Regions from separate parts of the Homo sapiens genome. Here all the other regions are reported to be linked to region 3. Evidence: microRNA targets listed by miRTarBase, many of them from high-throughput screens and not tested one by one. Region 3 holds a microRNA gene; each other region holds the end of a gene's coding sequence.

Evidence for each region. The annotated mature microRNA hsa-miR-6748-3p reads UCCUGUCCCUGUCUCCUACAG and lies in region 3 at 3,985-4,005, shown strand. An mRNA with a match to its seed (bases 2 to 7 or 8) in the 3' UTR can be bound and repressed. Matches are read on the target gene's strand: a 7mer-m8 pairs with bases 2 to 8, a 7mer-A1 pairs with bases 2 to 7 and ends in A, and an 8mer does both.
Region 1: miRTarBase lists ACSBG1 as a target of hsa-miR-6748-3p. Seed matches in the 3' UTR shown: 7mer-A1 at 3,282-3,288 and 7mer-A1 at 805-811.
Region 2: the mRNA of HEMK2 is a reported target of hsa-miR-6748-3p. Seed matches in the 3' UTR shown: 7mer-A1 at 4,275-4,281.
Region 4: the mRNA of PRKAG1 is a reported target of hsa-miR-6748-3p. Seed matches in the 3' UTR shown: 7mer-A1 at 2,563-2,569.
Region 5: miRTarBase lists GPBP1 as a target of hsa-miR-6748-3p. The part of its 3' UTR that is shown has no 7-base or 8-base seed match.

Annotation. Positions count from the first base shown.
Region 1 is chr15:78,166,899-78,173,072 of GRCh38, forward strand. It overlaps ACSBG1 (acyl-CoA synthetase bubblegum family member 1), which reads right to left. Exons shown (of 14, transcript NM_015162.5): 14 at 570-4,631. The coding sequence ends at 4,546. It overlaps IDH3A (isocitrate dehydrogenase (NAD(+)) 3 catalytic subunit alpha), which reads left to right. Exons shown (of 11, transcript NM_005530.3): 11 at 2,024-5,047. The coding sequence ends at 2,107. Among named protein-coding and RNA genes, the nearest start is that of IDH3A, 21 kb to the left of the region's middle. RefSeq lists an enhancer at 634-933.
Region 2 is chr21:28,871,671-28,877,844 of GRCh38, reverse strand. HEMK2 (HemK methyltransferase 2, ETF1 glutamine and histone H4 lysine) reads left to right here. Exons shown (of 6, transcript NM_013240.6): 6 at 1,354-5,654. The coding sequence ends at 1,460. Among named protein-coding and RNA genes, the nearest start is that of HEMK2, 11 kb to the left of the region's middle.
Region 3 is chr11:62,785,881-62,791,860 of GRCh38, forward strand. It overlaps MIR6748 (microRNA 6748), which reads left to right and starts at 3,935; the gene lies at 3,935-4,005. TMEM179B (transmembrane protein 179B) reads left to right here and starts at 1,522. Exons shown (of 5, transcript NM_199337.3): 1 at 1,522-1,647; 2 at 3,143-3,330; 3 at 3,412-3,546; 4 at 3,721-3,799; 5 at 4,006-4,520. The coding sequence starts at 1,552. The coding sequence ends at 4,167. TMEM223 (transmembrane protein 223) reads right to left here. Exons shown (of 2, transcript NM_001080501.3): 1 at 5,799-5,980; 2 at 4,091-5,035. The coding sequence ends at 4,743. It overlaps TAF6L (TATA-box binding protein associated factor 6 like), which reads left to right. Exons shown (of 11, transcript NM_006473.4): 10 at 380-508; 11 at 637-1,462. The coding sequence ends at 1,416. RefSeq lists enhancers at 593-792, 5,526-5,980 and a silencer at 1,043-1,152.
Region 4 is chr12:48,998,681-49,004,854 of GRCh38, reverse strand. It overlaps PRKAG1 (protein kinase AMP-activated non-catalytic subunit gamma 1), which reads left to right. Exons shown (of 12, transcript NM_002733.5): 8 at 222-348; 9 at 933-1,098; 10 at 1,260-1,297; 11 at 1,565-1,711; 12 at 1,849-2,581. The coding sequence ends at 1,956. DDN-AS1 (DDN and PRKAG1 antisense RNA 1) reads right to left here. Exons shown (of 2, transcript NR_147179.1): 1 at 6,165-6,174. It overlaps DDN (dendrin), which reads left to right and starts at 5,480. Exons shown (of 2, transcript NM_015086.2): 1 at 5,480-5,776. The coding sequence starts at 5,568. RefSeq lists an enhancer at 4,815-5,109 and a silencer at 5,255-5,549.
Region 5 is chr5:57,261,069-57,267,242 of GRCh38, reverse strand. GPBP1 (GC-rich promoter binding protein 1) reads right to left here. Exons shown (of 12, transcript NM_022913.4): 11 at 5,961-6,063; 12 at 2,570-4,649. The coding sequence ends at 4,491. Among named protein-coding and RNA genes, the nearest start is that of GPBP1, 90 kb to the right of the region's middle.

The sequences.
Region 1 (6,174 bases), not on the chromosome of region 3:
TGGGATTACAGGCATGAGCCACCACACCCGGCCAAGTTCATTGATTTTTATAGACAACTTTTTACTCTTCACAACAAACGTCTGTTGAGTGTACCTTATAAGGTGTGAAGAGTAAAATGATGAATAGGGTAAGATGCTGAGCCTCAAGGAGCTGGGAATCTAGTGGCAGATACAGATGCAGATGTACCTCTAATACAATAGTCTTATATGTTACACTGTGTGCATCTATAATACAAAAGCAATACAGAAGTTTTATAAAAGTAATAACTAATATTAATTGAATACTTATGCAACTTTTAAGTTCTTTATATATCATCTCAGCAAAGTTTTTCTATAACTCTTTGAAGTAGATGCTATAATTCCATTTTATAGATGAGGAAACTGAGGTACAGAGAGAATAAATAATATGTCCAAGGTTTTACAGCTCCTAAATGACCCAAGTTGGTATTAACACGCAGTCTGGGCCTTACCCAACAAGCTCCACCGCCTCGGTAAGCAATTGTGGCCTGTGGAAGAAGTGTCGCGGGCTATTCCGAAGTTAGAGGAAATAATGCACTTGAAGACTCATCCCTAATTTGAGGTCCTTTTTAACAAAAATTGTGAAAAATATGCATAACATAAAATTTGCCATTTTAGCCGTATTTAGGTATACAGTTCAATAATGTTAAGTACATTCACATTGTAATGTAACCATCACCATCAGTCATCTCCAGACCAGTTTCATTTTCTCAAACTGAGACTCTGCACCCGTTAAACAGTAACTTTCCCTTCCCCCTCCCATCCTCTGACACCTGCCATTCTGCTTCCTGTCTCTATGAATTTGACTACTCTAGGTACCTCATGTAAGTGGAATCATACAGTATTTGTCCTTTGAGTCTGGCTTATTTCACTTAGCGTAATATCTTCAAAGTTGGTCCCTTCTTTTAAAAAAATTCTGTAATTTGAAATTATATCGTGTGGCCAAAATACAAGAAATTCAGGCTTGTTTTTAACAGCCTGATAGTCACATTGGAGGTCATATGATTTTCTTATTCTTTAAAGTTATATTTGGGAAGTTATAATCTACAGCCCAGTAGAGAGGTGCCTGAATTACATAGTGGGCCCTTTTATTGTGTAGGATGGAAAGATAAAGAGAATTAAATATATTGGGGTCTGTATGCAGGAAAGAAAGGATAAGCTGGTAGAACAGATCAGTTGTATGGGAGGCTTTCTTTCCTAAAGAGGGAGGTTTAAGAGTTAATGATTTAGGCAGGTGTGGTGGTGCATGCCTGTAGTTGCAGCTATAGGCTGAGGCAGGAGGATCACCTTAGCCTCTGAGTTCAAGACCAGCCTGGGCCACATAGTGAGACCCCGTCTCTTAAAAAAAAAAAAAAGAGTTAATGATTTAAATATTTCTTTCGTATTTGTGTCCCAGCCTCCAAAAATAGATCAGATACAAAAATTAGTTGGGTATGGTGGCATGCACTTGTAATTCCAGCTATTCAGGACGCTGAGGCAGGAGAATCGCTTGAACCCAGGAGGCAGAGGTTGTGGTGAGCTGGGATCGTGCCACTGCACTCCAGCCTGGGCAACAGAGTGAGACTCCATCTAAAAAAAAAATAATAATAAAAACAAAAATAGATCAAAATATGTCTCAGGTCTATTCCTGAGACATATTTCCCAAGGATTTTTATGAAACTTCTTATTTAGATTCGCTTTTATTTAAATATCCATGACCAACTAATCTGGGTTAGGGTCTATTGTGTGAACAAAGGGAAAATTTTGGTAAAGCTCCCTGCCTCCCTTTGCATCAAGAGCACCTTATTCTTTGCAGAGTGCTGTTGTATACACTATGAGATTGGATCCCGATCCTCCTGGGCTGGGTAGATGGTGGTGGAGTGGTTCCTCACTTTGAAATGAGGAACTAAATGAAAGAGCAGCCGAGTAACTTGCCCAGGTGGCATCTCACTGAGGGCTTTAAAATCTCCTTGGTTTAGTTTAGTTTGCGGATACATCTTTTATTTTTGCTTTTTCCTTTTCTCAGAGCTTGACAAAAGATTTGGGAGGCAATGCAAAATGCTCAGACTTCACAGAGGAAATCTGTCGCCGAGTAAAAGATTTAGATTAACACTTCTACAACTGGCATTTACATCAGTCACTCTAAATGGACACCACATGAACCTCTGTTTAGAATACCTACGTATGTATGCATTGGTTTGCTTGTTTCTTGACAGTACATTTTTAGATCTGGCCTTTTCTTAACAAAATCTGTGCAAAAGATGCAGGTGGATGTCCCTAGGTCTGTTTTCAAAGAACTTTTTCCAAGTGCTTGTTTTATTTATTAAGTGTCTACCTGGTAAATGTTTTTTTTGTAAACTCTGAGTGGACTGTATCATTTGCTATTCTAAACCATTTTACACTTAAGTTAAAATAGTTTCTCTTCAGCTGTAAATAACAGGATACAGAATTAACAAGAGAAAATGTCTAACTTTTTAAGAAAAACCTTATTTTCTTCGGTTTTTGAAAAACATAATGGAAATAAAACAGGATATTGACATAATAGCACAAAATGACACTCTTCTAAAACTAAATGGGCACAAGAGAATTTTCCTGGGAAAGTTCACATCAAAAAGAGTGAATGTGGTATATTTCTAAATGATATGGAAAATAGAGACAGATTTGTCCTTTACAGAAATTACTGAGTGTGAATAAAAACTTCAGATCCAAGAAATATATAATGAGAGATATAATTTTTGTTAATAAGACAAAGGTAATATATTGGATACAAAGACACAAATGTATTGTGTGTTCAATTATTTTGTTGTCTTGAGATTTAATATTCTTTCCAAGAGCTTTTAATGAAGCAGAGAGCTAGTACTTCATTTTCACTGGATACATTTTCAGCATCATGAGTTGTCACAGCCTCTGAGCCCCTGATCTGAAGCCAGAAGGGCTGAGTGTATTGTAAACTTATTCTTGCATGTTGCTGTCTGGGAATGGACCACACTACAGCAGGTAGTTCTGGGGGCGATACTGCCGAAAGGCCCGAACACATGTATTTTGGCTGCAATTGAGGAACTTGGGATGCTATTAATTTTGTATTTCAGCAACTGCCCCTTCTCCTATCCCAAAGCACCAATTACTGCCCTCTGCCTCAGCAGTACCAGTATAAGATGACATTCCAAAGACTGGAGGCAACTCAGCCTGAGTTAATTCACAAAATTATGCCATGCTGGGGCTTGAGCTTGAGCTTGGGCTTAGGCTTGGGCTCAGCTTTTGACCCTCAGGCATCTCCTTTCCCTTCCTGTCTTCCTCTCCCTTCTCCTCTGCTGCAGCATGATTTTCTTAATCTTCAGACACTCACTATTTTCATGAACAGTTACCCTCTGTCCCCACAACCAAAGACAACTCATGGCCTCCTTTGGCCCTTGTGTAACATTGCAAACCTGTGGCTTTGCAAAATGTACCCAGGTCACAAGGGGATTTTTTTTTTTTTAGCAATGATATCCCTGTCTGGGTCACTTTTTAAGCTTGTAACCGCCCCCCCAGACTTATAATCTTAAATGTATTTTCCTTTGTTTAAGCTGCTGCTTCCTCTGTTTCATTGGATTGTGCCAGTTATCAGTGGCTCTTGGGTTCAAAGTAATAAAGAATTCCAAAACTGAGATGTTTGCTTTCTCTACCTGTTTCCTGTTCAGATGCCTTCGGTCATTTTGGCTCAGCTTGCTACTGAGAATGGCTGCTTCCCGTATTCAGAATGGAAGTGGGGTGGTCTGGTGGCGACAGGCTAACGTAGAGCTGGCTGCTTTTATGAGAATGCGCCACTTGACCCCATCCTGCACCTTTGTTTATTCCAGGGCACTAATGGTCACTCGCATGCCCGCTGTGCACAGTCCTGTGAGTTAAATGCCCACTACTCTCTGCACTGGTCCCACCTGCTCAATTGACAAAAAAAATCAGGTCCTTGTTGACAGTTCTGTTAAAAGGTTTAATATTCAAATTATACATTAAATAGAATCAAACAGGCAGCAGCAGTTTTATTAAGCATCAAGTCAGTTGGCATGTGGGTGGCGGAGTGCCTGGTAATGGAATAATAGGGTCGGCGATGCCCGCCAAGATTCCAGAGTAAGTCAGGTCGCTAGGTGAGTTGTGACTGATTGCTTTTCCTGCAGCGCACGTGAGCAGTATCAGCCATCTCTCTCCTACCCGCTCCACAGCCTACTGCTGGCTGTCCTGTATGTGAGCTAGCAGCTTTTTAATCTACCTGGAACTAAGGCCAAAAATTATCAGCCCTTTCGTTCTGGAAGGAGAGCTGATCTCATTTGTCACCTGAACAAAAAGCAATACTTAAACTGAATTAAAACTACCCACACGTGAAGCTTCTTGGAATTGTCAGCTATTGTTGGCGTAAGACCTGGTAAATGTAGAGCCAGTGCTGTGCCCTGACCTGGAGATCTAACAGACTTGGCAGAAATGCCTGTGCCCAGACTGAAGAGACCTGGGGCTCAGGAAGAGGCTCGGAACGCCTGCCCTCTATTCTATAGAAACTGCAGGCATAGGCCCTGATTACATTTTTTGCTCTTGGTAAAAGGAGTCAATGATACCTTTGTACTTCTCCAAAACTGTGAGCCGTTTCAGTTTCATCGTGGGACCTAAAAGGGAAATGAGAAGAAATGAGTGAGGCCCAGGCTCTGAGAACTCTGAGAATGTGTGTGGTAAAGACTCACACTCAGTCCTATATATAACTCAGGAATTAAGCCAGATAATCAGGACCGTCAGTAGCCAGCCTCCAAGACAGTGATCGCTCCTGGTATTCATATGGCTTGTGTGTAGTCTCCTGTGTTATACCACTGGTTGTGGCCAGTGGAGTATAGATGAAGGGTTGGTATGTCACCTCTGAGAATAGGTTATAAAAGATCAGTTTCTTTTATACACATAGGAAAGTAGTGTAAGCTACATCTGCCTTTTCCTTGACCTGTACCCAGTTTTGACCCTCAGTCCATTTTCTCTGAAATGGATTTATTTGTTCCATCTCTTGAATGAATAAATTGTTGAAGCAATTAAAAAATAGACTAGGTTTCTGTCTTGGGCTTTCTCTTGGACCATTCTTCCTGGGCAAGCCGGCTGCCATGTTGTGAGGATACACAGCCCATGAGAGGCCCACTGGCCACACACGGATGTTTCTGGCCAGCAGACAGCAAGGAGCTGAGGCCTGCCGACAGCCACGTAAGTGAGCGCGGAGGTGAGCCTCAGCTGCAAGTGACTGCACCCAGCTCACATTGACTGTAATCCCGTGAGACCCAAGCCAGAACCACTCAGCTAAGCTGTTCCTGGATTCTTGACCCATAGAAATGTGGATAATAAATGTTTACTGCTTTAGGCTGCTACATTTTTGGGGTCATTTGTTACACAGCAATGTATTAGATAGCTAGTACACATCATCTCTGCATTTTTGTGAACGTTTATACAACGTTGGACATTATGCTTTGATGGTTGTGATGGGGGTAGGGGAAGCCCAGGTTATGGGGAGCCTCTGCCATGGTCTTTATGAGAGGTCTTCCCCTAATTACTTTTCTTAACCTTGATTTATCCCCCAAAAGCAAGTTTGAAAGAGCTCTGATTTGAGGTCCTGGGTAGCTTAAAGTGCCTAACTCACTCTTGACTGTGTAACTGGAAACTTTCTGTGTTAAAGTCATTATATTAACTGCTTAGTGAAGACATCTTCTGTCTCTCTGACCTTGCGTTCAATATGCTGGCAGCAGACAGCCAGATAAGCTCAAGGTCTCTGATTGCAGCTCAGCTTTGCTGTAGACAATTGCATCTGGGTTCAGCCGTGATGGATTTGAGGGAATCACACTGGCATAACCATTTCTACCTCTCCTGTTCTATGAACATCCCATGAACATCTCTTGGCTACAGCCAAGAGTGACTTCAGCTGAGGCTGCACCAGAGCCCTCTCCTGGTTCTGTGGGCAGTGGTCCGGAACAGCCTTATCCCTTTGTCACACAAGCTGACTTTCCGGAAGATCACAGTACTCTCACCCCTAGAACCACGTGACTCCAGGCTGAACACTAGCAGGGCCTTGGTGTTGGCCTGGTAGTTCCATTGTGATTTTCGGAGAAAACAGTCCCATAGTCAAGGCCAAGTTAAATGTCATGTTCAGATTAGAAAGTTCTAGCACATATCAGCTGGGCG
Region 2 (6,174 bases), not on the chromosome of region 3:
TTAGTTCGTTAGGAGTTTTATCATGAAAGCTATTTAATTGTATAGATTTTTATATCTTTGTTTTCAGATTGCTTTATAACTAAATTGACCATAATCTTTCCTCTCTTTTTCTGTACACTTCAAGTTTGATTTTCAGCTTATACTAAAAGTCCTCAGCCCTTCAAATCACATGATTGCTAGTTTTCTCTTGTCTTTCTCCCTTCCTTCCTTCCTATTTCTCTCTTTTCTCTTTTTTTCCTTCCTTCTCTCCATCTTTCTTTCTTCCTTTCTTCTTTCCTTTCCTTTTCTTTTTCTTTATCTCTCTCTCTTCTCTTCTCTTTTCTTTTTTCCTTCTGTCCATCTTTGTCTCTTTTTCTTTCTCTTTCTCTTCTCTTCTTTTTTTCCTTCCTTCTGTCCATCTGTCCTTCCTTCTCTCTCTCTTTCTTTCCTTCCTTCTTTTTTTTCTTCCCTTCCTTCCTTCTTTCTTCCCTTCCCTTCTCTTCTTTCTTTTTTTTCTTTCCTTCCTTCCTTCTTTCTTTTTCTTTCTTTCTCTCTTTCTCTCTCTCTTCCTTCCTTCCTTCCTTCCTTCCTTCCTTCCTTCCTTCCCTTCTCTTCCCTTCCCTTCCCTTCCTTTCCTTCCTTCCCTTCCTTTCTCTCCCTTCCCTCCCTTCCTTCCTCCCTCCCTCTCTTTCTTTCTTTCTTTCTCTTTCTTTCTCTCTCTCTCTTCTCTTCTCTTTTTTTCTTCCTTCTGTCCATCCATGCGTCCTTTCCTTTCCCTCCCTTCCCTTCCCTTCCCTCCCTCCTTCCCTCCCTCCCTCCCTCCCTCCCTCCTTCCTTCCTTCCTTCCTTCCTTCCTTCCTCCCTCCCTCCCTCCCTCCCTCCATTGTCTTAGTTCAGTCTTCTTAGTTTTATTTATTTATAAGGAAGGTTTTCTTTTTTCAATATGCCTGAAAGAAATAAGCTACTTCTTTCACTCTCACTGTGCAATGTCACTATTCAGTTTGTCCACACCTTCATTGGCTTTTGTCATCCAAAGAGAAAGACATAGGGCAGAGATTGGAGCCAATCAACTAAAAAACTGATCACTTGCTATAATAACAATGACAATTAATGTTTCTGCTGAGTCAAAAGTAGGCTGTGACTGCAAAGCAAGCCATTTATTCTGATTAGACTCACCAGCAACACTTTGAAAATACCAAGTGCTCCCATTTAGCTGAAGACCAAGTTCACTTTAGTAGACATTTATTTGATATACATTGTTTTGTCAGATGAATACAATTTATAAATCATCTGTGTTTAACTTATTAAATTGCTTATTGATCATGCACACTACCAAATGGCTTAATGGATTTTACCTTTTGATTTTTATTTTAGAAGAAATTTTGAAAATAATGAAGACAAAAGGTCTGCAAGGAACCACTGCACTTTCCAGACAAGCAGGCCAAGAAACTCTTTCAGTCCTCAAGTTCACCAAGTCTTAGCATACAGTGTGTGCCCAGAACTACTGGAAACTGAATGCATTTAGCATATTTTGAAACTGAAGTCATTCATTAGGTAACAAGGAATTTTATCAGAAATTTGTCATTAAAAAAAGGTAGAAAGGTGGAACATTCCCTTTCAGTCAGGCCTATAGAATTATTTGCACAAGTACAAGTAAATATGTGTATTATATTTATAGTTTGCATTTTAAATATAAAAATTATGTATGAAATATTTATTTCAGCATTATGTGGTAAGGCAATGGAATTGATCTGGCAAATGTCTTTTTTTTCATACCAGTCCATAAAGGCAGTTTGCTTTCAGATGGCAGGGCCAGCAACACACCTTCATTGTCGTATCTCCGGTGTGTATCAGCTCTCCAACTCTATGTCATAATTCAGTTCATGGGGATCTTGATTACCTTTCCCTTCCACAAAATATTACACTGATTGGTTATATCGATGACATTATGCTGATTTGACCTAGTGAGCAAGAAGTAGGAACTACATTAGACTTAGTGGAAAGACATTTGCATCAGAGGGTAGGAAATAAATATGACTACAATTCAAGGGCCTTCTACCTTAGTGAAATTGGTAGGGATCCAGTGACATGGGGCATGTTAGGATATTTCTTCTACGGTGAAGGATAAGTACTTGCATCTTGCTGCTCTTAAAACCAAGAAAGAGGCACAATACTTAGTGGGCCTCTTTGGGTTTTGGAGGCAACATTTTCCAATTTCATTATGTTATACCAGCCTGTTTACCAATTGACTCAAAAAGCTGCTAGTTTTGAGTAGGGCCCAGAACAAGAAAAGAGTCTGCAACAGGTCCAGGCTGCTGTGCAAGCTGCTCTGCCACTTGGGTCATATGATCCAGCAGATCCAGTGGTGTTTCAGTGGCAGTGGCAGATAGGGATGCTGTTTGAAGCTTCTGGCAGGTCCCTATAGGTGAATCTTGGTTTAGGATTTTAGAGCAAAGCCGTGCCATTACCAACAAATAACTAGTCTCTTTTTGAGAAACAGCTCTTGGCCTGCTACTGGGCCTTAGTAGAGACTGATACTTAATGAGTCACCAAGTTACCGTGCAACCTGAGCTTCCCATCATGAACTGGATGTTATCTGAGCCACCAACGCACAAAGTTGGATATGCACAGCAACACTCTGTCATCAGATGGAAGTGGTATACACATGATTGGGCCTGAGAGGCCCTGAAGGCACAAGGAAGTTACATGAAGAAGTAGGCCAAATTTCCGTAGTCCCCACTTCTGCTACCTGCCTTCTCTCTTCCAGCCTGCATCGGTGGCTTCATGGGGACTTCCCTGTGATCAGCTGACAGAGAAAGAGAAGACTTAGGCCTGGTTTACAGAGTGTTCTGTATGATATGCAGGTACCACCCTAAAGTGGATAGCTGCAGCACTACATCTCACCTCTGGGCTACCTTGAAGGACAGTGGTGAAGGGAAATCCTCCTGGTGGACACAACTTTGAGCAGTCCCCCTGTTGACTTTGCTTAGAAGGAAAAATAGCCAGATATTCAATTATATGCCAATTCATAGGCCGTGGCCAGTGGTTTGGCTGGATGGTCAGGGAGTTCAATATAACTGGAAAATTGGTGACAAAGAAATTTGGAGATGAAGTATGTGGATAGACACTGAATGGGCAAAAAGGGTGAAGATATTTGTGCCCCATGTGAATGCTCACCAAAGGGTTAGCAAAAAAGGATTTTAATAAAGTGGACAAGATAACCTGTTCTGTGGATACTAGTAGGCCTCTTTCTCCAGCCACACCTGTCATCACCCAATTGTTTCATGAGCAAAGTAGCCATGGTGACAAGAATAGAGGTTATGCATGGGCTCAGCAACGTGGACTTCTACTCACCAAGGCTGACCTGGCCAAGGCTATCTCTGAGTGCCCAGTCTGCCAGCAACAGAGACCAACACTGAGCCCCTGATATGACACCATTCCCCAGGGTCATCAGTCAGTTGCCTAGTGGCAGGTTCATTACATTGATCCACCTCTATCATTGAAGGGATAGTGTTTTATCCTTACTGAAATAGATCTTACTCTGGATACAGATTCACTTTCCCTTCGCGCAGGGTGTCTGCTAAAACTACCATCCGTGGACTTACAGAATGTCTCATCTATGACCATGGTATTCCACACAGCATTACAAGAAACTCAGTTCACAGCAAAAGTGTGGCAGTGGGCCCATGATCATGGAATTTTCTTACCATGTTCCCTACTATCTTGAATCAACTGGCTACATAGAGCAGTGGAATGGCATTTTGAAGACAGTAATAACACCAGCTATATAGCAGTGCCTTGTAGGGCTGGGACAAGGTTCTCTAGAAGACTGTCTATGCTCTGAATCAACATCCAGTATATGGTGCATTTCTCTTATGACTGGGATTCACAGGTCCAGGAATCAAGGGGTCAGAATAGGAAGGACACCATTCGCTATTAGCCCTGGTGACCCACTAGCAAAATTTTTGCTTCCTGTTCCCATGACTTATGCACTGCTGGCCTAGAGGTCTTACATAGGGTGGAATATTTTCCACTGAGAGACGCAATCATGATTTAATTGAACTGGAAGTTTAAGACTGCTCCTCAGCCATTTGGGGCTTCTTATGCCTCTAACTCAATAGACAAATGAGTTACAGTGCTGGCTGGGTGATTGTTCCTGACTACCAAGTAGAAACTGGACTACCCCGAATGGTGGTAAGGTAAAGTATGTTGGGAATACACAGGATTCCTTAGGGCATCTCTTAGTGTTATCATGCCCTGTGATTAAGGTCAATGGAAAACTACAGCCTAATTCAGACAGGACCACTAATGATCCAGACCTTTCAGGAATGAAGGTTTGGGTCACCACCAGGTAAGTACCATGACCAGATGAAGTGCTTGCTGAAGGCAAAGGGAATACAGAATAAATGGTGGAATAAATACTAGCTTTGATCATATGACCAGTTACAGAAACACAGACTGTGATTGTCATAAGTATGTCCTCCATATTTTGCTATAACTACATTTTGTGTGTGTGTAGCTTTGTTTTCTTCTCATTTCCTTATTCTGTAACATAAGATGCATTGATTTTATAGCATAGTGTTTAAATATTGTTAATTTTTTTAACTGGCTCCAGTGTTCAACCTTGATTAATTTTACATCATAGTATTTAAGTTATGGGATATCAAGGAGAGAGTAAACATCACATGAAGACTTTACCACCTCTTCTGGGAAACGGGTTAGAGTGTTTCTGGTGGAATGCTGGATTGTTAATCGTGTTAGATGGAATTATGACCTTGTTGTTGTCTTTATGTGGCAGTTAAGTATGGTTTAAAGAGATGTTTATGGGTGCCAAGTTGACAAGGGTAAACTTGTGATGGTTAATTTTATATGTCAACTTGAATAGGCCACAGGGTGCCAAATATCTGTTTAAACATTATTCTGAAGTGTCTTGAGTGTGTTTACAGACAAGATTTGCATTTGAACTGGGGGACTCAGTAAAGGAGATAGCCATCCCCAAGGTGGGTGGACATCATCCAGTTTGTTGAGGGCGTAAATAAAATAAAAGGCAGAGGAAGGAAGAATTCCCCCCCCTTTTTTTTCCTGCCTCATTGTTTGAGCTGTGACATCTCATCTTCTGTCCTCAGATGGATTTACATCACTGGCTTCCCTGGTTCTCAAGCCTTTGGATTCAGACTGAATTATACCACAGGCCTTCCTGGGTCTCCAGCTTATAGATGACAGATCATGGGACCTCTTAGCCTCCATAATCATGTAAGCCACTTTCTTGTAGTACTGGTAAAAGATATATTAGACCAATCTATAAAACAGCTAGCTATGAAAGAGAAAGGTGACAGGCACAAGCCTAGGCAAATAGAGAAGGGTTCCTGGAGAGCCTCTGACTTGCCTAGGTCATTGTGCACACGTGGCTTGCCTGAATGAACATGCCCACTGTGAAAGATTCCATTTCTCAACACATGTGCAGTAAGGGAAATAAATCAATGTGGCTCAGACTAAGCGCCCACACATGGGGTGGAGCCACGAGGAGTTTGCTCCTTATGCAGGGGAGAAGCCGTGCCTCTTCAGCTCGTGTGTGGTGGCCTGGCATTCAATTTGTGAGGTGTAAAACCTGCATGAAGGACCCCTCTTTTTGTGGAGAGCTTTCCTTTTGCCTAATAAATTCTGCCCTCCTCGCCTTTCAGTGTGTACGCGTGCCTAATTTTTTCTGGTCATGTGATAACCCAAATTTAACTGAACTAAGGAGCAAAAAATCCTGCATCAGCTACATTAATAGCTGATTGTACTAGATTGAGTAGTGTCCCCCCAACAAAATTCGTGTCCAACTGAAACCTGTGAATATGCTCCTATTTGGAATTAGGGACTTTGCAGATGTAATCAAGTTAAGACAAGGTTGTACTTGATTAGGATGGGCCCTAAATCCAATATCTCTTGTGTCCTTGTAAGAACAGGAAAATCTGAACACAGAAACAGAGACATAGGGCCATATGAAGACAGAGGCAGAGGTTGGAGTGATGAGTCAATGAGTAAAGGAATGCCAGGGGTTGCTAGCAACTGCCAGAGGCTGGAAGAGGCAGGCAAGGATTCTTCCTTCAAGGCTTCAGAGGGAGCATGGTCCAGCCCACACCTTTATTTCAGACACCTAGCCTCAAGAACTGTGAGAGAATGCATTGGTTTTACAACAAACAGTTGTAAAAC
Region 3 (5,980 bases):
GGTTGTTTTTATGCAGATTGTTTGAACTGAGTCTCAGTTTACATCTAAGTGAAGCCAGTACTTGCCTGATTGTATAGGGTAGCAGTATGCAAACTAAATTTTGGAGTTGTCAGTAATGAGCATTATTTAGCACACAGGGCAGTGATATTGGGTATATTTTTTATTGTCTCCCTTTGTACCTTATCTTTATTCCCAATGCCTAGCTTAGGTATACAGTAGGTTCCAAATAAATATATGGTTGAATATGCCAATCAGGGAATTTAGGAGGATTGAGCCCTGTCTAGGATCAGAGATAAAGGTAGGTCTTTCATGGGAAAGGGTCCTTGAGAGGGAATAAGTATCAAAGACATGCTAACTGTATTCCTTCTCTTCCTTCCAGGCAGTAGAACGAGTCCTGTACCCACACCTGTCCACCTACTGGACAAACTTGCAGGCTGTGCTGGATGATTATTCAGTATCTAATGCCCAGGTCAAAGCAGATGGACACAAAGTCTATGGAGCCATTCTGGTGAGTACCGTCCCCTTCCAGCCTCCCTTCCCTGCATGAGCTTAGCAGCCAAGCAGGCTTACTTTGGAATATTTGATGGGCCCAGGTTCCTCGAATTTTTTGCCTATCTTAGTCCTTGGCTCTTACAGGTGGCGGTAGAGCGACTGCTGAAGATGAAGGCCCAGGCAGCAGAGCCCAACAGGGGTGGCCCAGGTGGCAGGGGGTGCCGGCGCCTGGACGACCTGCCATGGGACAGCCTTCTCTTTCAAGAGTCGTCCTCCGGGGGCGGTGCAGAACCCAGCTTTGGGTCCGGCCTCCCGCTGCCGCCAGGGGGCGCGGGGCCGGAGGACCCTTCTCTTTCGGTGACCCTGGCCGACATCTACCGGGAGCTCTACGCCTTCTTCGGTGACAGCTTGGCCACACGCTTTGGCACCGGCCAGCCTGCACCCACGGCTCCGCGGCCGCCCGGGGACAAGAAGGAGCCGGCGGCAGCCCCGGACTCGGTGCGGAAGATGCCGCAGCTGACGGCAAGCGCCATAGTCAGCCCGCACGGCGACGAGAGCCCCCGGGGCAGCGGCGGAGGCGGCCCCGCGTCGGCCTCTGGGCCCGCCGCCTCTGAGAGCAGGCCCTTGCCGCGCGTGCATCGGGCGCGCGGGGCACCCCGGCAGCAGGGCCCCGGGACCGGCACCCGCGACGTTTTCCAGAAGAGCCGTTTCGCCCCGCGCGGCGCCCCGCACTTTCGTTTCATCATAGCCGGGCGGCAGGCTGGGAGGCGCTGCCGCGGGCGCCTTTTCCAGACTGCCTTCCCCGCGCCGTACGGGCCTAGCCCGGCCTCGCGCTACGTGCAGAAACTGCCCATGATCGGCCGTACCAGCCGCCCCGCCCGCCGGTGGGCGCTCTCGGACTACTCGCTGTACTTGCCGCTCTGAGTCAGTGGCCCCTTCGTTCCTTGTAAATAAATCCCGCCCCCGGAAATGACGTCTCCACCTTCGTGGGTCGCGCCGGATAAGGTGGGCTTTGGGCGGGGTGCTGCTGCAGCGGCGCTTCCTGGTGGTCAGGGCGCCATGGCGCTGTCCTGGCTGCAGCGCGTCGAGCTTGCGCTCTTTGCTGCCGCCTTCCTGTGCGGGGCCGTGGCGGCCGCGGCGATGACTCGGACCCAGGTGCGGCTGCGGGGCGGGGTCAGGTAGGCGGGGGAGCTGGCCGGTCTGGACATGGCGAGGCCACTTTCGCTTTCCGACCGGGCTTGCTGCTGCTCGGAGCCGGTGGACCTGGTGAGGCACGGCTGGCGCCGGCCTGTACCTGAAATGCAGCGAGGCTAATCGCGCTTTGTGGCTCCTCCTGGCCAGGTCATACTTCGAAGTTGTCCCCTCGCCAAAGGGACGGGTCAGTAGCGTCTTAAAGCACTAGGTGGAGTCGGGTTTCGTGGCTCCTGCTGCACAGCCTTACTGTGGTTCCGAAACAGAAGTCAGTGCAGAACCTGCGTCCATCCGTTAAATCAGAAGCCATTTGTGCTGAGCTTTGTCGAGAAATAAAGCATAGTGTAGTGGAGATGATCAAGCTGCCACATGATTGTAGCACAGTGTGTTAAATGACAAAATGAGAGATGGAGAAAACGCTGACGTAAAGGTAGAAGCCAATAATTTACATCGTTTACCCCAGCCAGGTAATCTGGTTAATAAACATGGGTTCATTTAATGCCTATAAAGTAGGCACTAGTGTGCCTATTTTACACCATGAGAAAACCTCAGAGATCCGCCGGGCGCGGTGACTCACGCCTGTAATCCCAGCACTTTGGGAGGCTGAGGCAGGCGGATCACTTGAGGTCAGGAGTTCGAGACCAGCCTGGCCAACATGGCAAAACTCTGTCTCTACTAAAAATACAAAAATTAGCCGGGTGTGGTGGCTCATGCCTGTAATCCCAGCTACTTCGGAGGCTGAGGCAGGAGAATCGCTTGAACCTGGGAGGCGGAGGTTGCAGTGAGTCGAGATCGTGCCATTGCACTCCAGCCTGGGTGACGAGCGAATCTCCATCGCAAAAACAAAAACAAAAACACTGGCCGGGCCTGGTGGCTCACGCCTGTAATCCCAGCACTTTGGGAGGCCGTGGCAGGCGGATCACGAGGTCAGGAGATCAAGACCATCCTGGCCAACACGGTGAAACCCTGTCTCTACTAAAAATACAAACAATTAGCCAGGCATGGTGGCGGGTGCCTGTAGTCCCAGCTACTCAGGAGGCTGAGGCAGGAGAATGGCATGAACCCAGAAGGCAGAGCGTGCAGTGAGCCGAGATGGCGCCACTGCACTCCAGCAAAAAAAAAAAAAAAAAGCACCTCACAGATAGTTATTTGTTGAAGGATATACAAGGCCTGGGTTTACTCTAAGGTTTCTGCACAGAGACCATAACTTGTGAGGCTTCTCTGAAGCTCATTGCATTCTATATTCATTGCCTATTTTCTGATCCTTCTGGCCACTGCCGGTGTGATTCCCCAGCAGGCCCTCTCCATCAATATCCCTGTCCCAGAAATAGGAATTGACGGTGCACAAATAACTTCCTGGAATGCAGGACCATTCCTAAGTTATCACTAACACCCTACCAAGAGACTGTATCTAGAGACATTAACCTGAAATCTAGGACTCAGCAGCTTCTCTCCACAGGGCTCCTTCAGTGGTAGATGTCCCCTGTATGGTGTGGCCACCCTGAATGGCTCCTCCCTGGCCTTATCCCGTCCCTCAGCACCATCCCTGTGCTACTTTGTAGCTGGGGCCTCTGGCCTCTTGGCCCTCTACTGCCTCCTGCTTTTGCTCTTCTGGATCTACAGCAGCTGCATCGAGGACTCCCACAGGTGACTGCCTAACCCTGAGGGCCAGGGGCTGAGGTAGGATGAGCCTCACCTCCACCACAAGGCTTGTTCTCTCCCTTTCAGAGGTGCTATAGGGCTGCGCATTGCACTGGCCATCTCAGCTATAGCCGTCTTCCTGGTCTTGGTGTCTGCCTGTATCCTTCGATTTGGCACCAGGTCTCTCTGCAACTCCATCATCTCCTTGAACACTACAATTAGGTAATGGGAGAGGGAGGGAAGCCTGGCTGGGGCTGACTACCTTCCCTCTGCAGCGGGGTCCTATAATTTCCTTTTATCCCCATCAGTTGCTCTCAACTCACAGGGCACTGGGCACAGGTGTGCCTCGGATATAAACTATCACGCTTTCTCACAACTGTCTCTTTGACCTCACAGCTGTTCTGAAGCCCAGAAAATTCCATGGACACCCCCTGGAACTGCTCTGCAGTTTTACTCCAACCTACACAATGCTGAAGTGAGACCCAAGGATAGGAGGAAAAACTGACATAAATATCTGTAGCTGTGTGGGTGCTCACCAGTGTATTGTGAGCTTGGCCTACCAGTGAGAGGAGCTGAAGGGGTTGTCAGCTTAAAATTCAGCAGTTCAGAGTGGTGTGTGGGTGGGAAGGACTGGATTTGAAATGGTCCCACTCCTGACGATCCTGTCCCTGTCTCCTACAGACCTCTTCTTGGGTGAATTTGGTATTGTGGTGTGTGGTCTTGGTGCTCCAGGTCGTGCAGTGGAAGTCTGAAGCCACCCCATACCGGCCTCTGGAGAGGGGTGACCCTGAGTGGAGCTCTGAGACAGATGCTCTCGTTGGGTCACGCCTTTCCCATTCCTGAAGAATAAGCGGAGTGCTTCCTGCAGCCGAAGACTCCATGCCCAAGTGCCTGTAATCCCCCCCCTCAAGGCCCTGTTTATGTTGGGAGTCTTAGTTTTCCTTTCGTTGGGGGGTGGGGGGGAAACATAATGACAGGCCCCCCTCCACCTCTTCCTGCAGCTGTTTTTGTACCAAAATATTATATTACTGTCTTCATCTTAGTAGTGAGTTTTTGATGTTAAAGTACAACTAGATAGGAGGAAGGAGTGAAGGCTAAGCAGACATGGACTGAAACTTAGAGGTACTGTTAGGCAGCTGCCCTAGGGATGACTGCTCCTTTATTTGTTGTTAATGAATCTTGACCTCCTTGTGTGACCCTGGTTGTTACTCCATTCTAAGATTGGCGTTTTTTTTTGTTTTTTTTTTTGTAAATAGAGACAAGGTCTCGCTATGTTGCCCAGCCTGGGCTCGAGCAGTGCTCCTGCCTCACCCTCCCAAAGTGCTGGGATTACAACAGGTGTGAACCAACACACCTGGCTCCCCAAGGTTCAGTTTTTATCCTCCTCTTGGAGAGGTGAGTGACTTGAGGTCATTTCTTCACAAGCTCCGGTAGGCACCCACAGTATTGTCAAAGAGTTTTGTGTTAGGGAAGTGTCCAGTTTTGTCCAAGAGGAAATAGAAGCGTCGGCCTTTGACTTTCAGAGGTAGCATGGCAGGGACTTCACCCCGGTGGGCCATGCAAGATACCTGCTTCAAAGGAACTGTGAAATGGGCCCCCAAGCCAAAGGGGGCATGAGTGGTGAGGGTCACCTGCTGCCCTCCAGCTCGAAGCACCACTGAGCGCACAGACCGGAGAGAGAAGAGAAGACCAGCACCGAGTACGAGGGCTCCTGCAGGCAGGGCAGAGATTGGGGTGAGGGGTTTTCACTGGGCATCTAAGTACCGACCTTTCCAGTGCCCTCTGAATAAGAAATTTGTGGGATGAAAGTAGTATTTACTGAGCGCTTTTTTTTTTGAGACTGAGTCTCACTCTGCCGGCCAGGCTGGAGTGCAGTACTGAGCTCCTGTTATACCCAGTAATCTTGTTATTCCTCCCAACAACCTTAATAGATGTCCGTTTCCATTTTAATGGGAAGATGGAGAGCTTTAAGGACCTTGCTCAAGGTCGCAGAGTGAAGGGCAGCCCTCAGCCTAGGCTATGACAGGGCACGGCGCTCGGAGACATCACTGTTTCCCAATTTTTTTTTTTGAGAGGGGAGTCTCGCTCGGTCGCTTAGGCTGGAGTGCAGTGGCGTCATCTCGGCTCACTGCAACCTCCGCCTCCCAGGTTCAATTGATTCTCCTGCCTCAGCCTCCCGAGTAGCTGGGACTACAGGCGCTTGCTACCACGCCCAGCTAATTTTTTGTATTTTTAGTAGACACAGGGTTTGACGGTGTTAGCCAGGATGGTCTGGATGTCCTGACCTAGTGATCCGCCCGCCTCCGGCCTCCCAGCATTTGAGCCGCCGCGCCCGGCCAGTGTTTCACATTTCTGTGGGGTAAAGCCCGCCCGCCACTCTCGGATAGGGAGTCCCTGACTCTCCCTGCCTGTATAGGGAAGGTCGTGTCCCGCCACCCCACGTTGTCACAGTGGGAAGCCAGCCCACGTCTTACCGATGGCGCCGCAGCCGACGGCCAGACCGTAGCGCCAGAGCGCGGAGCGCAGGTCGAAGGGGCCACGATTTGGGACCTCCGCATCCAGAGGCTGCACCGGAACCGGGGGCCGGGACACGGCTGCCACAGCCATGGAAGCCCAGAAGACGCCCTGGCCCGCGCAGAACAGCCCGAGGATGGTG
Region 4 (6,174 bases), not on the chromosome of region 3:
ACACACACACACACACACACACACACACACACACACACACAGTCTCTCTCTCTCTCTCATTCTCACTCTCTCTCTCTCTCTCTTTCTCTTTAAGTCTGGCCTGTACACTGCCCCCCTTCCCTAACCATCAGTTTTCCCTGTTGAGCAATACACTGTATGGACCTGTTTAATCACCCCCAGCCCCAGCACTGTGGAACTTATTATCTCCCACCCTCTCACAGCTTGTTTGATGCTGTCTCTTCATTAATTCGGAACAAGATCCACAGGCTGCCAGTTATTGACCCAGAATCAGGCAATACTTTGTACATCCTCACCCACAAGCGCATTCTGAAGTTCCTCAAATTGTTTGTAAGTGCTCCTCAGCCCAGTTCTTTTTTCTCTTTTTTCATTGATTGATTGATTGATTGATTGAAAAGAGAGACGAGGTCTCACTGTGTTGCTCAGGCTAGTGTCAAACTCCTGAGCTCAAGTGATCCTCCCGCCTCAGCCTCCCAAAGTGCTAGGATTACAGGTGTGAGCCACTGCATCCAGCCCCACTTCTTATTTATTTATTAATTTATTTTGAGACAAGTTCTTACTCTGTTGCCCAGGCTGGCGTGCAGAGGCGCTATCATGGCTCACTGCAGCCTCCAACCTCTTGGTCTCAGGTGACCCCCGACCTCAACCCCCAGAAGAGCTGGGACTACACGTGTGTACCACCACACCTGGCTAATTTTTTGGTATTTTTTATAGAGATAGGGTTTTGCCATGTTGCCCAGGCTGGTCTCGAACTCCTGGGCTCAAGCAATATGTCCCCCTCAGCCTCCCAAAGTGCTGGGATTATAGGCATAAGCCGGCGCACCCAGCCCTTATTTCTAATATACTGGGTTGGAGGGGGTATCCAAGGGTGGCTTTGGGTGCCTTGAAAGTTAAGCTGATGGTTCTTTCCTCAGATCACTGAGTTCCCCAAGCCAGAGTTCATGTCCAAGTCTCTGGAAGAGCTACAGATTGGCACCTATGCCAATATTGCTATGGTTCGCACTACCACCCCCGTCTATGTGGCTCTGGGGATTTTTGTACAGCATCGAGTCTCAGCCCTGCCAGTGGTGGATGAGAAGGGTGAGAGATTGGGCAGAAGGAGAGGGAGGGAAGATCCAGGCAAGTCAGGGTGGCTCTGGGAAGATCTGCTTTCCCCTCAGCTTAGCCAGGAGGGTGATTCTATGAGTAGGGGGAGCTTTAGATCCCAGATCCTCCTTACTGAGCTGCCTCTGTCCCCCTAGGGCGTGTGGTGGACATCTACTCCAAGTTTGATGTTATCGTGAGTGATTGTGGAGGGTCTGGGAGGTAGGGAAGTGGTGGGGGGGGGGCACTGTTAAATATGGAGAGGGAGAAGGGAGTCTCTTCTGTGATCTAAGGGTCTTAGAAGCTTCCAGGCTTTCAAATCCTATTTGAAAAGGAATTGAATGAGTTGGGTGTGGCTTGTGGCTGACAATTGCCCTGAATCCCTCTGTTGAGGTTGGATGGGTTCAGGGTTTGGAGGCTGGCTCTCTTGCTTCCCTGCAAGCTCCTTCCTCTGTCTCCCCAGAATCTGGCAGCAGAAAAGACCTACAACAACCTAGATGTATCTGTGACTAAAGCCTTGCAACATCGATCACATTACTTTGAGGGTGTTCTCAAGTGCTACCTGCATGAGACTCTGGAGACCATCATCAACAGGCTAGTGGAAGCAGAGGTAGGGAGGCCAGCAACCCTAAAGGAGCTGAGGGGAGCAGCCTTGAGAGTGGGGTTTGGCAAGGAGAGTAGGGGCAGAGGGGCTTCCCCTGAGGCCAGCACTAAACATTCCCTTTCTCCCTTGTTGCTCTGTGCCAGGTTCACCGACTTGTAGTGGTGGATGAAAATGATGTGGTCAAGGGAATTGTATCACTGTCTGACATCCTGCAGGCCCTGGTGCTCACAGGTGGAGAGAAGAAGCCCTGAGCTGGGGGAAGGGGTCATGCAGCACCAGGGGATATGCCCAACTCACTGCCTGCTGGAAGCTCTGTGGGAATCAGATGAAACTTGAGGGAATTGTGACTCTGTTCCCTGTTCAGGGTCCCCTGCCCTTCTATCTGGGAGCTAGGGAAGGTATGGGGGAGGAAAGAGAATGGATTTATAGCTACCCTTACCCTCACACATACACTTGAAAAAACTTTCAGCCTAGCCAGTTCTAGCCCCTGTCCTCTTAGATATATCCCCCTTTCTGGGTGAACTATAGGCTCTGTGCCTCTCAGACAAATTCTGATCTCTAAGAGATCCCCAGACCTCACTTGCCTCTGCCTCCATCTTGGCCCTGATTCAACCCTAAGATAATAGCACAACAAAATTCTTCATAAAGATATTTTTATTCACCTGTTCCGTGCTATATGGAGGAGGCCAAGTCCATTTAGTGACATTTCTTCCCATAATGTGAGTGGGGAGGATTGTGGGGAGGAGGGGCTTTGGGTTCCTGTGTTTGTGCATATGAAGGGAGATGGGGGTTAGGTGGAGGAGGAGAGCAGCGTGGTTAGCTAAGGTTATTGCTTTTTGTGGCAAATCTAATTAAATGACAGGAATCTCTTCACGATATTGCAGTGTTTGATTTTTACAGTTGATGGGTACTACCTTCCTACTTTATATGGCTTCTTCAACTGGTCATTAACAATAATAATAACGTGTGTACGCACACACACACGTACACACACACGAGTAGACAGACTTGAGGGTCTCCTTTGGGCAGAGAATCCTGCCACCATTATCAGCTTTTCTTAGTTGGGGAAGGTTGGACTGTTTGGCTTTTGCTGAGTTGGCACTATCTTTTTTTTTTTTTTTTTTTTTTTTTTTGAGATGGAATCTCACTCTGTTGCCCAGGTTGGAGTGCAATGGCGCAATCTCAGCTCACTGCAACCTCCGTCTCCCGGGTTCAAGTGATTCTCCTGCCTCAGCCTCCTGAGTAGCTGGGACTACAGGCGCGCGCCACCACGCCCAGCTAATTTTTGTATTTTTTAGTAAAGACGGAGTTTCACCCATATTGGCCAGGCTGGTCTCGAACTCCTGACCTTGTGATCTACCTGCCTCAGCCTCCCAAAGTGCTGGGATTACAGGCATGAGCCACCGCACCCGGCCAGCACTATCTTTAAACCTACAAATCCCTTGCCTCTTCCAAGGTGAGAATGAGCTGGATGGTGGGAGAACAGCAGGGCAGTGGTCACTCCATCAGATCCATTCCCTGTATTGAAAGCATGTAGACCCAAACAGCAGTCAGCACCCAACATCAGAAGAACTGCTAGACTGGAGTATGAGCTAAATTTGGGTGCCAGCTCACCCCAGCCTTGCAGGTATGATACAGTTTCCCATCCAAGCCAGGAGCAATTTCGGAGTCATTCCTTGCCCCTGCCCCACAGTGCCTAACCCCTCTGATAACCCTCCAGCCAGGGCATACTGGGTTCTCCTGATGGAACACAGGGAAAAGCATCAAGGCCCTCATCAGATTCGACCTGAGGAAGCTTATTTTAAAAAAAGAAGGTGGCCCTCATCAGAGCTCAGCTTTCAGTGTTGCATCATGGCTGTGGAGGAGCCCCTGCTTCTGCCTTCACCCCTTTACAGCTCTCACAGCACATTCTCAACCTTGGGGGAGGAAGGCTTCCAAGTTATTAGAATTAGAGTATGTTTATGTGTCAGGAGGGTAAGCACATGGTGGAAAGGACAGATGGCCCCTTATGTCACATTCCCTCATTAAGGAAGATTTGCCTAGGGAGGAGGCAAGGGCTTTAAAAAGCCTCAGGACTCTAGTGGGACCTAGGGTGGAAGGAAGCATCTTCGAGTCAAGTCATCAGTGCAGCTGGCAGGTGTGTGGAATCAAGGGGGGTAGGGTGGATGGGACGGGATGTTTGCGTTCTCTCTAAAGGTTTGTGTTAGGGAGCAGAGACCTGGTTTTGTTGAGTTGTTTCTCAGTCTGTCAGTCTCTGCCCCACAACCTTTCTGGTTGTTCCCCATCCCCTTAAAAGGAAGGGTCTGGACCCAAAGGGCTCCATGTACATTAGTGGAAAACTAATTGGGAACTCTTGCTTCTCCCATTTCCCTCTAAAACCCAACCTATCCGTCTCAGTGTGAGGATGAAGCTGAGGGAGAGACAAGGGATGAAATTTGGGAGACTCACAAGCTTCTATTCTTACCTATTCCTCTCCAGAGAGGCAAATTATCCCTTCTTCCCGAGGAACCATGCCCCACACACTCTCCCCTCTCTCTGCACTGCTCCCCTCCACTGAAGCTGCTGCCATGGTTGCCAGGCATGGTTGCTAAGTCTCTGCATGGAAGGGTTGGCGTGGGCTGTGCTGCCACTAACATTACCATGGTGAATCAGGGGACACCTGGTATAAGCTTAGGAGGAGGGATCATGTGGATATAAGCAACAGCCCCCCAGGACAGAGGCAGCCCAAAAGGTGAGCATCTGGAGCACCACTTAAGGTGGGGACTGAGTGAACTAGGCATTGTGGTGGTGGTGAGGGGGAGTTCTACATTGAAAAAAATAAAGGCCACTTTTATCATTTCAGTTGCTAGGGGATTAGTTTTGCCAAGCAAACACATCATTTCTCCTCCATCCCCCTCTGGAAGGGTGAGAGTGCATAAGCACTTACTCTGTCCTCCATAAAGCTGGGCAGGCTGTGTGGGCACAGAACAATATAACCCCCAAATCCTGGCTTCTGGATTGGAGGTGAAAGCCTGCTGCTGTGGGAGGGCTCCCTGGCTGCCCAAGGACAAACATGTAGAATGGAACTGGTAGGGCAGCTTGGGTGGCCAAGGCAGACGCCTGTGTCCTGCTGTACCAGCAGTCCTAGGCTGCAGCACTGAGCTGACAAGGAGATACGGGTGTAGGGGTCACCCTTTTTGAGCTTAGGGAAGGCAGCTCTCCCTCAGAGTCGCACAAAAGCTTGGTAAAAGCCACCGCCTCCTCTCTCCACCGCATGGGAGCTGGTTACTCATCTCATCTCTGCACCCGAACAGCCACTGCCGCTAAAAATAGCCCCCCAGCCGTGGGCCAGCCCCTCCTGCACCCCAGCCCCATGGAAACCAGCAGAGTGGCAGGCAGAGACCTTGAGTTCCAATCTCATCACTCTATGTTGGGGAAACTGAAATCTGAGGCAGGAAGCCAGGGGCAGAACCCTGGTGGTCAGGCAACCTGACAAGCAGGAGAGTAAAGGGTTAAAACGGCAGGAAGGTTGAAGAAATAGGGGCGGGGGAGGGGGCACTGTCAGCTTGGCAAGAATCATAAGTCCCTCCCCCGCCCACTCGTGCGATCCCATCAGGCTTGGGGGACAACAGCAGTGGGAAGGGGCGTCCAATCCCGGGCCCCAGGGGGCGGCCGTGCACATGGGGGAGGTAGCAGCGCGGAGCAGTCCGCGCGGTGTCACATGCGCGCGCACACACAGAGACAGGCACACACACGTGTGCCCGGGTATATATAGTTCCCAGTCCCCGGGCCCGCGGCTCTGCAGTGGGCGCCGGCTCCCTGGGCTGGGAGGGGGCTCCTGGGGCGGGTGGGAGGGTGGGGGGCCGGGGTGGGGTGGGGCAGGATGCTGGATGGCCCACTGTTCTCCGAGGGGCCTGACAGCCCCCGGGAGCTCCAGGATGAGGAGTCTGGCAGCTGCCTCTGGGTGCAGAAGTCCAAGCTATTGGTGATAGAAGTGAAGACTATTTCCTGTCATTATAGTCGCCGCGCCCCTTCTCGACAGCCCATGGACTTCCAGGCCAGCCACTGGGCTCGCGGGTTCCAGAACCGCACGTGAGTGAAGCAGGGGTGAGGGGAAGAGAGTGGTGGGGCGGGGAGTGGGGTCCGGACCTCCCCGCAGGCACCAGCGAGCACTGCTGGTCCCCCTTCTCTTTCCCACGCCTTCCACCTCTGCCCGCTCCCGAGGGCTGGGGCCTGACTCATCCCGTTGTTTGGGGGAACAGAAGTGGGTGTGAGAAAGGGCAGGAGGTGAGATGGGGCAGACGCTGTTAAAGTGTGCATGGAGAGATGGCGAGGAGTCCCGCTTCGACTTCAGTCCTAACATATACGCACGTGCACACGCGCACACACTCACACACACCCCTTCACATGGCTGCCCCAAGTGGTCTCCAGTGCTCCCAGCTCCCCGGACCTCGGCTCCCTTCCCCCACAAACTGCTCACCTGGGTTCCT
Region 5 (6,174 bases), not on the chromosome of region 3:
ACCTGTCCAACGTGGCGAAATTCCATCTCTAAAAATATGAAATTTAGCCGGGCATGGTGGTGCGCACCTGTAACCCCAGCTACTTGGGAGGCTGAGACATGAGAATCACTCAAACCCAGGAGACAGAGGTTGCACTGAGCCAAGATCACGCCACTTACACTCCAACCTGGGTGACAGAGTAAGGCTCTGTCTCAAAAAATAAAAAAAAAGAATGGGTTTTGGGGGCAGGATTTTTAAATATTCTAAAGCCCAGGCCACGCCCCAGTCTAATTAAACCACAATCTGGGGTGTTGGTGGGGGATGGTGGACACATTGGGGAAGCTCCCCAATGATACCAATGGTGTAGATAAGTTTGGGCCCCACCACTACACATGCTCTTACATATTGCAAGTTAGGACACTGCTGCATGGAACATGCTTCAGCAGTGTCCTTCAACCAGACCTAATGATATAATACATTGTACCTTCAATCACTATGCCAGAGTAGTTCTACAAAACGAATCCATATGGGTAGGCAGAATGAACTTAAAGTTAACTGTACAACTGAACAAAAATTCACAATTACAAAACCTCTTAATTACAACACATTCTCAAGTCCTAAACTACGAATGTTTCAGGTCCACGTGTCCCATAACTATATATATATAGTTTTATATATATATAGTCTTATATATAGTTTTACATAGTTTTATAGTTTTTATATAGTTATATATGTAGTTATATAGTTATATATATATAGTTATACAGTTATATATATCAAGAGTCTCGCTGTCACCCAGGCTGGAGTGCAGTGGTACAATCATGGCTTATGGCCTCCGCCTCCCAGGTTCAAGCAATTCTCCTGTCTCAGCCTCCCAAGTAGCTGGGATCAGAGGCATGCACCACCACACCCAGCTAATTTTTGTATTTTTAGTACAGACTGGGTCAGATGGGGTTTCACCATGTTGGCCAGGGTGGTCTTGAACTCCTGACCTCAGGTGATCCTCCCGCCTCAGCCTCCCAAAGTGCTGGGATTACAGGCGTGAGCCACCATGCCCAGCCCCATAGTTAAATATTAAAACAATCACAGCTGTCCTCTGAGTCCCATCGTTTTAAGTGCAAGCATTCAGCCCTGCCTAAAGAAAGGAAATATTAAGTAGCAAAACAAAAACCAGAATCTGAAGCATCTCTGCGGCATCTGGAGGCTTTCACGGATTTTTCTATTGCTTGATATGTCCTGTCGTTCCCCTAACAGCCAAATAACTTTTATAACCTCAGGAAACTTAACTATCTAAAAGTTAAAATATCCAACTCTTAGTGATAATCATTTAAAAGCCCTAGTAACACATCCCTTATTGTGTAAGCCAAAATAAAAATCTCACTTTATAGAAATATTTCACAAGTGTGTATCCTTTCTACCCTAGTTATCATTTTTTTTTTATTTTGAGACGTAGTCTCACTCTGTTGCCCAGGCTGGAGCACAATGGCACGATCTCAACTCACTGCAACCTCCGACTCCTGGGTTCAAGCGATTCTCCTGCCTCAATATCCTATGAGTAGCTGGAATTACAGGTGTATGCCCCCACGCCCGGCTAATTTTTGTATTTTTTTTTTTTTAAGTAGAGACAGGGTTTCACCACGTTGGCCCAGGCTGGTCTCTAACTCCTGACCTCAGGTGATCTGCTGACCTTGGCCTCCCAAAGTCCTGGGATTACAGGTATGAGCTACCGCACCCAGTCTACCCTCATCATCTAGATTCAACTTAGTTTGCATGATTATGGAGCATGTATTTAGACTCCAGTATCAGATTAGGGATGATGACGGATGGGGTGTTAAAACAAGTTATTTAACAGATTCCTAAATTTAAAAGGTTTATATAACCACATTCTAACAGTATACATAAACACTAGCAAAAAAGGACAAAGTATTTTGGGGGAACCAGATCCTTTAACATACTGAATTCTGTTAATATAAATCTGATTAAGTCAAGCTGATTTTAGATTAACAATTTCAATAGAAATTATCTGCAGAAATATTCTAATCCTTATACTAAAATCAAGCAAATAGTTTTTGAAATGCTATTTTAAGTCATTACCTTAAGAATTTTGCTCATTAATTACATTTTATACCAAAATAAAATGAGAGGGGGGTGGAGAATTAGTGACAGGGACTTAAAAGGAACCAAGAAATTCGGGGGAATAATAGATTATGTTCACTTAGTTGTAGGTCAAAACACTGTAAACTGTATGTTTTACCTGTGTGTTCAAGTCAATTTATACCTCAATAAAGTGTTAAAAATAAAAAAGCTGCCAAAAAAATGAGTTTGAAACAGCCATATTTGCTTTTCAGACTTCCATGGCCTAGTTCTGAGTTCAGCAATTCCACATTAGATCTATAACTAGTTTCTGTGCTTGTAGGCTCTCTTTAAAACAATATGGTCCAAGCTGTTTTATCAGCTGCCCATTATTTAGACACCAAGCTAAAACTATGTTACACTTTTAACTGTTCTCTTAAATTACATGTATGGCTCCAACCCCTCATAACCAAGCTTATTAATGTCATTAACTTAATGCATAGAATAACCATACCACTGTACTTTACCATATTTATAAGGAGTAAATTACTAAACACATTCCATATCACAATGCATGAAAGCACAATAAACATGAGTTAACTGCTGGTAAATGGGAATTAAGGCAGAAAAAACTGAGTATAAGAAAGATGCCAAAAACCAAAACTACAGAATCTTTTCTGAAAGTAGAAAACACAGTAAGGTGGATCTCAAATGTAAACCACATTCCTCAGGTTCCTTCTAGCTTGTTTTTGGAAATACAGGTTGTATCTGATAAATTTCATTAATCTATTAAGCAAATAGTACAATCTAAGAGTCTCAAAGACATTCAATATGTGTTACCGATAGCTTCGTCAAAGCATGCTTTACATTCTCCTGTGGCTAATTCTAACTACATTTAACTTTAGCTGATTAGATTGAATTGTGACAAATTATATAGTGAAACCTTATTTTAAGTATAAGGTCTATTTAATATTTTATTACCATTCTAACTCTTCCTCAAGTTTTGTGGGAGTGTGCTAGTGTGTTGTTTTTAATTTCCCCATCACCATCAGTCTCAGTGGGAACAACAACAAAAAAAAATAACAGTTTCTGGTGAAAACTGGGGAGTCCAGGTAGGGTATTTATGCAGAAATAGCAAAAACACTGCAGCCATCTGAGAAAACACTTTTTAAAAAACAACAAACACTTAAGATTAGATCTGACATAAAACCTCAAGTATTTTTGCTCTAAGATTATGCTCTTTACATAAGTTAGAATATATTTAAACATAAGGGGGAGCTAAAAGCAAATGGGGGTAAACAAACCAGAAAAATCAAAATACAAATATACACAGAGCCAAAATAGTATTTCCGTCAGCAGCAAAACAGAAACAATTCCAAAATTAATGTGCAAATGAAAATAAAGTAGTTAACAGTCATTCATTTAATAAGCTTGTGTATTTGATAATGAAAACGCTTAGCTTTCCTTTTCTGACCTCGGAAAAGTAATCACCATCTTTAGTAAGGTATTACTTTTAAAAGTATGACTTTAACAAGTGAATAAAGCATGTTTAGAGTATGTTTATGTTTAGAAACAATACCTTGAACACTACAGAAAACAACAATATTCTGAAAATCCAGTTTATTTTCCATGTCGTGGACAGATCCAGTCAGTGTGATCAGTTTTTCTGCGTGTGTAATAATTTATCAAAATAAGTTTTCTCACAAGACTCTTTTCCATCAACTCTGAAAACCCTGGTCTGACAACATACCCCAATAAAGCTTTTGAAAATCACCTCTTAAAATTTGGAAGAAAATGTGCCAAGTCTTTTCCTGTAACATTTACTGCACTACAAATGGCTAAAGAGCAATTTATGGTTTAAAAGGTGAATAGTACAACAGGTGAGTTCAGGAAATTGTTTTAGTGCACTTTGCTCCAGTTTTAGCCAACATGCTACATTTTCCTTTTTGGTTTTTGTTTTGTTGTTGTTGTTTTTTGGGGGAAGGAGAGGGAGACCGCACAAAGTGGACTTGAGGATTTCCATTGTACGAAAAAGATATGACTCTGCAAGCAAAACAGTGTAAGCTGCCTTTTTTCTTAAGACCTGGACATTTTAAGACAGAAGCTTTGCAAAACATTACACAATTTTTTATTATTAAATGAGAAAATCTCATTTGTTACATCGTCACATTGCTAGTCAGAGAAATGTTGCAGTGATGAAGAAAGTCAATGTTGGACCAACCCAAGTCCTCATTCCTACAACATTCATTTACAAAGAAATAATGTTCAACACAGCCCAACAAAACATTCTTGGTTTTCTTCATATTGAAGTCCCCCAAAAAATCCTCTTCTAATGGGGTATTTCACTACATAAATTATAGTTCTTCATTTTTACAATTCACCCCAAACTGTATGAGAGATGTATCACACTAAGATTTCTAAAGCTGTTAGGAAATCCTTCACACATCGTCGTCATCTGATGTATCACTGCTACTTGTCTCTGTGTCATCATTCTCAGTTGTGGGTTTGAAAGTGCTGTTCTTCCACGGTCCAAACTTGAAGTCACAGATCAAGCCATTTTTCAAAATACCATTTTTTCTCAGACCATTCTTCTGTAACTAAAATGTTAACAGCAAAATAAATAAATTATCCCTCAAGAGTTACAAACCTACTGTAATAATATAAGCATGAATATAATAAAATTGTATCCTAACCCAAAAACTACACAAGTAATGATATTTCTGAAAAAATTCTGGATCCAGACAAAGTAGATGTGAGTAATAATTGTCACACTGATTAAGGTACTAAACTTTCCCACATTTTTATTGCCTCAAGTGACAACTGTAATAAATACCTTCAGGGACTTACCAGAATATAATCAGAAACCATTAAGCTGTATCTGTTATTTTTATTATTCTGACCTAAATTAATACACCCCCCAATCTGCTTTGTTCATAGTTTGTAAAGTAGAATGAGGTATATAAAGTTACAAAATTGTCTCGTTTAACCGGAGATGAAGATACTAGAAAAAATACAGTTCTCTATTTCTGAAAATGAGAAATCATAACTAAAAGGTTGGTAATAAATAAGAATTGAGTCAAAACATCATCAAAGAAGAAAAAAGATAGTTGGCCCAAATTAGAAACAATTTAAAGACAGAAAATAAGCCCAGTGTAGTGGCACAAGCCAGTAGCCCCAGCTGCTCAGGAAGCTGAGGCAAGAGTATTGCTTGAGCCCAGAAATTTGGGGATGCAGTGAGCTATGACCAGCCACTGCACTCCAGCCTAGATGACAGAGTGAGACCCCAACTCTTTAAATAAACAAATAATCGATTTGAAAAAAAGCATCTCAACTTCCTGATGCTCTAACAAAAATTCCCTAATACTCTTTCAGAAAGGTAACTAGGGAGACATTAAGCAAGATGTTTTAGAATATGAAATACTCTTGTGCAAGAAAAGGATAAAAGATGAAGTTACTTAGGAAGCTACTAACACTCTCTACTTCTTATCACTCTTGCTCCTCCCCCAGAAAAGCCAAAAACAAAAACAAAAAACAAAACAAAAAAGGTCTGGAAAATGACTAATCCATAGACATCACTTACACTAATTCCTAACTATTGCACACCCAATAGTTTAAATAAGTCACTATTGCAGACTTCTATAAAGTCAATTCAACCAGGTGCAGTGGTTCCTGCCTGTAGTCCCAGTTACTCCAGAGGCTAAGGTTGGAGGATCACCTGGCACCCAGGAGTTCTAGAGGCCAGCTGGACACCATAGCAAAAGCCTGTCCTCCCTCTTTTTTTTTTTAAAAGCAATTCTGACCTATCGTGATAAATTCCTAAATCTCCCCCACTCCATGCTTACATATAATTATATTGTTCTAAATAAGGGCAGTTTAAAAGTGAAGTTGTATGATTCAGGTTTTCTTACCTGTTCACTAATAACTTGGAATTCTCTCATTTCATCCTCAGTTAAGGGAGCACATGTTTCATCATTTTCACTGTCTTCCTGCCAGCCCATTTCCTTTAACAATCTGAAAAGGAGAGGAAATTAAGTTTAATGTAAAGCTTACCCTGAGTAGGACAGTATCATTTACATTATGTATAAGAAAACATGATCCACCAGGATCCATTATACAAAGACC